2 linked regions of the Homo sapiens genome follow. The protein of the gene in region 1 interacts with the protein of each later gene in a pairwise test. Each region holds a gene or a part of one and is shown on either strand. Other genes may lie near its edges.

Evidence for each region. The genes of interacting proteins can lie anywhere in the genome.
Region 2: the proteins of ARL13B (region 1) and SLC13A3 interact in binary tests that used the Homo sapiens proteins (3 or more experiments, as listed by UniProt).

What each region holds. Positions count from the first base shown.
Region 1 is NC_000003.12:94,053,155-94,056,178, forward strand, and holds the end of ARL13B (ADP-ribosylation factor-like protein 13B), read left to right. Parts: intron 1-32; coding exon 33-109; 3' UTR 110-2,524; downstream 2,525-3,024. UniProt on the Homo sapiens protein: Cilium-specific protein required to control the microtubule-based, ciliary axoneme structure. May act by maintaining the association between IFT subcomplexes A and B. Binds GTP but is not able to hydrolyze fit; the GTPase activity remains unclear.
Region 2 is NC_000020.11:46,616,960-46,620,459, forward strand, and holds part of SLC13A3 (Na(+)/dicarboxylate cotransporter 3), read right to left. Parts: intron 1-3,500. UniProt on the Homo sapiens protein: High-affinity sodium-dicarboxylate cotransporter that accepts a range of substrates with 4-6 carbon atoms, such as the citric acid cycle intermediates succinate and alpha-ketoglutarate (2-oxoglutarate), as well as other compounds including N-acetyl-L-aspartate.

The sequences.
Region 1 (3,024 bases):
TTTTGTGCATTTGGTTTTCTTTCTTTTCTTAGATTTCTATAGGAAGCCACTGCCTCCCCTGGCTGTGCCACAGCGACCTAACAGTGATGCTCATGATGTGATCTCATAAACAAGACGTATGGAGGAGTTCTCTTAATATCAGCAAGGTGAACTGGGACATTCTTCTTTCTCAGAAGAAGAAACATCTTGTAAATTGATGACTGGGGCAAGATAACCATAATAATTTTAGTGAGAAGATTAATACTCAAGGACCTGACTTGATAATTACTTATTTGTGTTTTTCATGGTTAAAAAAATAAAAGAAGCACAATGACCAGTACATGAAATCAGCATTTGGACCAAATTAGCAAGATTTACTGTTGACTCTGGTTTATACATCCCCACTCATGAGCATACTTCTGAAGGAAAACTTTACAAAAAGAGCCAATGGACTCAGCACTTTCTTTACTATTTGTTCAATAGCCTATATTTCTAGATATTAAATATTTTTTGTAAGATATATGCACATAGAAGGGGGACTTCTAGGAATTTATAACCAAAATTTTAAAACTATTTTTATATTTTTTTAAATCTTTAAAAATTTTAATTACTGTGATATTGATTATACACCTTTTTTATAGATGATTTGTTTAAATTATATCTGGAAAATAGAGTTGATTTACTTTCAGACATGAACTATACAAACAGGATATATTTATATGGCTTGAGGTATGTTTTGTAATAGCGTTGTTCTTTAAGTGTACATCGTAATTTGACCTAATTTAAAAATAATATATTTTCGAAGTAGTAGATTCTCAGATCTTTATTCTAACAATTACATGATTTGAAAACAGTACTCAATGAGACTGGAAATACCTTTTGTACCTAAATGTTTTTTAAATTAATCAAAATACATTCTGTGAGATACTATTAAAAGTCTCAGTAAAGTCCTATTTTAAAGGTTAGACACTTTCAGAGATCAAGGTGCTCCCTATACTCCCTTGTTCCATCAGAAGCTGCAGTGACTCTTTTAGGTGATTCTAATTCTTTCATGCCTTGAAATTAAACTATGAAATTAAAGGCAGAAAAACTGGAAAACCTACTGCAGGTCCAGAGACTTCTGTTTTACAACTGGGAAACAGCTTGTGTACTAAAGTAATGAGAATAAAAATGTTGGCCCAAAATTACTTTTATAAATAAATAATTCCAAAATAATTTCTTAATTTAAAATGATAGCACTTCTCTTGCACTTAAGAATGGCATCCATAAGATTCTGTATTTGGCATTTAGACTAACTTCTAGATGTATATTTTTAATAATAGATTCATAATGTTACATTTAATTGAAAACAAACCTTTATATCCAATGAAAATAGTATAAACAGAATGATTTTTATACCACCTTGTTAAGATTGGTGCTTTTGGTAACTTGTACTGACACAACAGACATGTGCTAGTATCTGATAACATTAAGTACATTTTATGTCGTTTAATATAATTATTTACTTTAAAAATTGTACTTCAGAACATCAGATTTTATTCACATTTTTTAACTCACTGAACTTTAATAATCAGGTCACCTGTACTCTAGTCAGCACTGTATATATTCTTGGAGTTTGTACATGGGACTTAGCAACCACACTGAGTGAGGTAAAAGCATTTGATTTCAGATCTAAAATTCGTAACAACCTAAATTTGAGAGGTGGCTGAAATGTGATGAAAAGCAATACGAAAAGACAATGTAAACTTTGAAAAGGATTTTAGAGGGAAAATTGCATAGCTTTTTGTAACATTTACTTAATTTTAAAACTAAACTCATACTTTTGCTATCTTTTTAATATTTATCTCGTTTGGGAGTATACGTGTTTTTAAAATTTGTGTTTTCTATCTGTTTACTATAGTGTAGCTACTGGCTTCATTTAATAAAAATAAATGATTTTGAAATTAAATATAATATAGAATTCACATTTTATATAGCTCTCTCAAAAATTAATTTTTATTCCTTAAGCATTTTAAAAACATTTTAAAAAATGTTTTGTAAATCCAGGTGTATTTTAACAATTAAATGCCTATTTTGTTATATGTTATACTTTTATTCTTAATTCTGAATTTTGACATTTTCACACAATAAAAATAATTTATATCAATATTCTGTTTCTCTTTTCAATTGGTAGATTTAAATGATTTCCTTTGGGTAATAAAATAGGTAAAGATTTTAAAATATGATTATTGAAAAACAGTTTAAATCAGTAGATTAAAATAATGCATTTTTTTGATACTTTACACACAAAACTTTTTTCTCTCTGCAAGTTTTTATGTATGTGGGAAAGAATTTGTGATTTTAAATGCAGCTACAAATAGCATTTCACCATATGATGTTAGAGGATTTGATGTCTGTCTTGCGTTAAAGCTGTTGGTCAACAGATATGTTTTTATGTATTTAAAAGAGGCTCTTGTGTGCCTTTATGTGTAAAATGCATATTACGTAGTATACATGATATTGTATGTAACTGACTTCAAATATAAAACTATGCATAGAAACAACACTAGAAAGAAATGTAGTTTGGCTTACTTTTGTAGTGAGGGAGGCAAATTTATAATATTGTATAAATTATTTAAGTACCATGTTTTCTGCAAGTTTAAAATTAAGTGCTTTTATAAATGCCAGATTAAGACTACAATTCCCTTAATATGTAAAACCTGTGAACATCGTGGAGCAGTTCACCTGCAGAATACAACTAAAGAAATCAAATGCTTCTAGGTAGCAAAAGCTATTCACAAGCTAAATTGTTTATACATATAAAGCTGTAGCTTATAAACTTTATCATCCTTGGCTTTACTTAGTAAATTTTTTTGCTAAGTGGAATATGCTTTGCAACTGAGATTCTGCTAATAATGGTTTATTAATTTATCAGGAAGTATATTCCAACTGATCCAAAGAACAAATTCAAATATTTTAAAATTTTCAATTAAGCATGGCATAGGTTATCAAAATAGCAATAATCCTTTATCTTTACAGAAACAGAATAATAGATACCTGTTTTTT
Region 2 (3,500 bases), on another chromosome or scaffold:
AAGCAGCATGAAACTCTGTCTCCAGCCCATTATCCTGCTTCATGTTCTTTTATGTAACCGGTTACCACCTGAAAGCAGATTTTATAGCTTTATATGTTTTCTCCTCTATTAGAATGCAAGCTCTAGGAGAGCAGGGATTGTGTTCCCAGTGCCAAGAACAGTTCCTGGCACATTGTAGGCACTCAAAATATCTGTTGAATGATGAAAACATGTTTCTACAACTTAGAGAAAAAGCTTGATCCAAGCTATCATTCATTCATCCATCCATTTAGCAAACTTTATTCCTGACCACATTTTATGCCCTGGGCTGGAAGCTGGTACAAGGAAAATGACTAAGACATAGCCTAAATTTTTAACAAGTAAATCTGGCCATGCCAACCAATAAACAGTTCTTAGTCAGGTGCCTATAGTCCCAGGTACTTGGGAGGCTTAGGGAAGATGATTGCTTGAGGCCAGGAGTTCAAGTCCAGCCTGGGCAACACAGTGAAACCTGGTCTCTAAAAACCAAACAAAAAAAAACTACAGTGCTTCTCAAACCCAAATCACCTTCCCAGGCTCTTTCTGCCAAATATCCCTCAAACAACAGATGTGTGTTGGTAAATGTTGAACAATTGGCTCTCTGAAAAACTTGTGTGTGTGTGTGTGTGTGCGTGTGTGTGTGTGTGTGTGTATTAAGGTCTGTATTTAATAACTGGCTATTAGAATTCCTAAAAATTTGACAAGCACATTTCCCAAGCCAGCATAAGCTGGCTGCAGCACACCACTGTGGGCCTCCAGGCAGAAGAACATCCATGTATCACCCCCTGGGCCAGGAAATCTGCATCACATTCTGCGCAAAACTGACTTTCTTCCACCCATGCTTGGTATCCTGCTCCACAATGAATTCGTGCTTTTAAAAATATACAATTACTTTCTATCAAATCTTCCTGCTGACCCAAGAAGGAATGCCCCATGTATCCTGTTCTGTGTACCACTCACCAGACCAACAGGTATCCCAATTTGTAAATATGAGTCCTCGGTGGAGATTATAGTCTCAAATTCCCACAGAAGCCCAGACATACCATAAATTAACTCTTGGACCCCTTCAGACAATCCTCATCTTTGCGTTTTGAAAATGATATGACTATAAGATGTTTCACTTTCATCTTAGGTCTATTATGAGACACCTAGACCCCTAGACTGTAGTCCACACCGCTACTTGGCATTCAAGGTTTGGTGCCCAGCCCATCCCTGGTCCTAGATTCCTAGACTGTAGTCCACCCCTCTACTAGGCATTCAAGGTTTGGTGCCTAGCCCATCCTTGGTTCATATGCTTCCACTGCTCAAGGAGACAGACATGAAGACAAATCATTCACCTCCCAGAGAGACAAGGGCTAAAACAGAGTTTAAGACAGTGAGCTATGGAGCAAAGGTGAAAGGCAGCTGTGTCAGCCAGTGGGGTCTGAGAAGGGCAGACACCTCAGCACCTCCTTGCTATGGTCTCAGTGTTTCTGTCCCCCCAGATTCATACATGGAATCCTCATCCCCATTGTAGTGGTAATAAGAGGCAGGGACTTTGGGAGGTGATTAGGTCGTGAGGGCTCTGCCCTCACTAATAGGATTAGTTTCCTCATAAAAAGGGCCTAAGAGCCTTCCTTCTGCCATGTGAGGACACAGCAATAAGGCACTGTCTTTGAAGCAAAGAGCAAGGCCCCACCAGGCACTGAATCTGCCAGTGCCTTGATCTTGAACTTCACAGCCCCCAGAACTGTAAGCAATATATTTCTATTGTTTAAATATCACCCAGTCTAAGGTATTTTGTTATAGTAGCCCAAATGGACTAAGACAGTCCTCCGTCTCTCGCTTCAGTGCCCATCATTCCTGTTCACACCAGTGACGTCTTCAGATTTCTCCGGTTTCAGAAGCACACTTGGCCAAGACTGCCAAGAAATAACACTCCAGGAGTAGCTCCTAGCCACGAACTTCAGTTGCCTTTCAGTGGGATAACTGAGGCATGTCGAATACCATTTCCCAGAAGTCCCCAGTAAGGCTGAGTCACTGCTGCTGGTAGTAACCTCTTCATTGGCACACTTGTATTTCTTCCATGCTCTTCACTGTTTCCCTTCTCCACTGCCCCCAAATTCCTTGCAGTCAAATTGTTGTCTCAGGGTCCTTCTGAAGACCCAATCTAAGACAGAAGCCTTCTCAGACAGGGTGACATCTTTCCGAGCTAGGATTTGAGAGGTGTTTGGCACAGAGAAGGAGAGGGACTGCCTTCTTGCCTATGCTGGAAGCCTCTTTTGTATTTGAGTCAAAAAAAGGCTCATGTCCTCCAGCTGGATTTGGGGTTTATCTGAGCCAAACCCAGTTGAGAGAGGTCCCAGGCATGATCTGATACAATAGAGTCCAAGCTCTGTCATTAGAGCCTGAGTCTTTAGGTCTCTCCTCTCCATCTGCACTGCCCTTGACTAAGGTCAAACTTCATCAGCTTTCACTGAGACTATTTCTCAACTTTTGCACTTGTCTTCATGAATCCTCCACATAAGCAGTCAAAGGAATACTTCTAAAATGCACTTCAGATTATGTCACTCCCCTGCTCAAACACCTCCTCTGGCTCCCCATGGCCCCCAGACTCACAGTCATGGCATTCAAAGCTTATCAGTGTGTCCCAGTACAGGCTTCCCACATTCCCCACTTTCTCTGTTATCTTGGACACAGTTCTCTCAGCAGTCTACGCTGCTTGTCATTCTCTGGGCCTTTGCACATGCTTTTCCTTTTGCCAGGAACATTCTTCTGCTTCTTCATCTAGTGAATTATGACTCATCTTGTAAAGGCCATTTTTATCCTGTGACCCCCACCCTAAAGTCCTGGTCAGTTCCAATATCTATGCTCTCACAGCACTCGGTTCACAGAAGAGCAGAACAGCACAGCGGTTAAGAACATGGGCTTGTTGCAAGACTTCCTGGATTTGAACTATAGCTTGATTACACCATGACTTTCGTGACCTTGGATAGGTGACTTAATGTCCCTGTGATTCAAGTTTCTGTCATTTGCAACTCAGACTCCTGACTAAAACACTCACCTTCTCCATCCTCCTAACAATAAATAATACCTGACATTTTAATAGAACTTAATGTGTGTGCTTTCATCCTTGCTATTGCAAAATTCAGAATATCTCTGTCACACAGTGATGGAAAAAATAAGAACATTTATTGAATGTTACTATGTGCCTGGGACTGTTCTAAGTATGTTATGTCTATTTGTTCATTAAACAACCTTATGAAAGGAAGGTTAGTATTATTTTCATTTACATTTAGCAAATGAGAAAATTGAGGCACAGAGAGGTTAAGACAAGGGATCTTCAAAAAGTTCATGAAAAGTATGTATTATTTAAAAACTATGCATGGGTTTCAAATTTTTGCACCAAAATAAACTCATACTAACTTATTATCACATGTCTGAACAGAATCTAGTTTGAGGCACTAAAAAGGATAGTTCGAAAACAGCCCCTATCAGAGCAA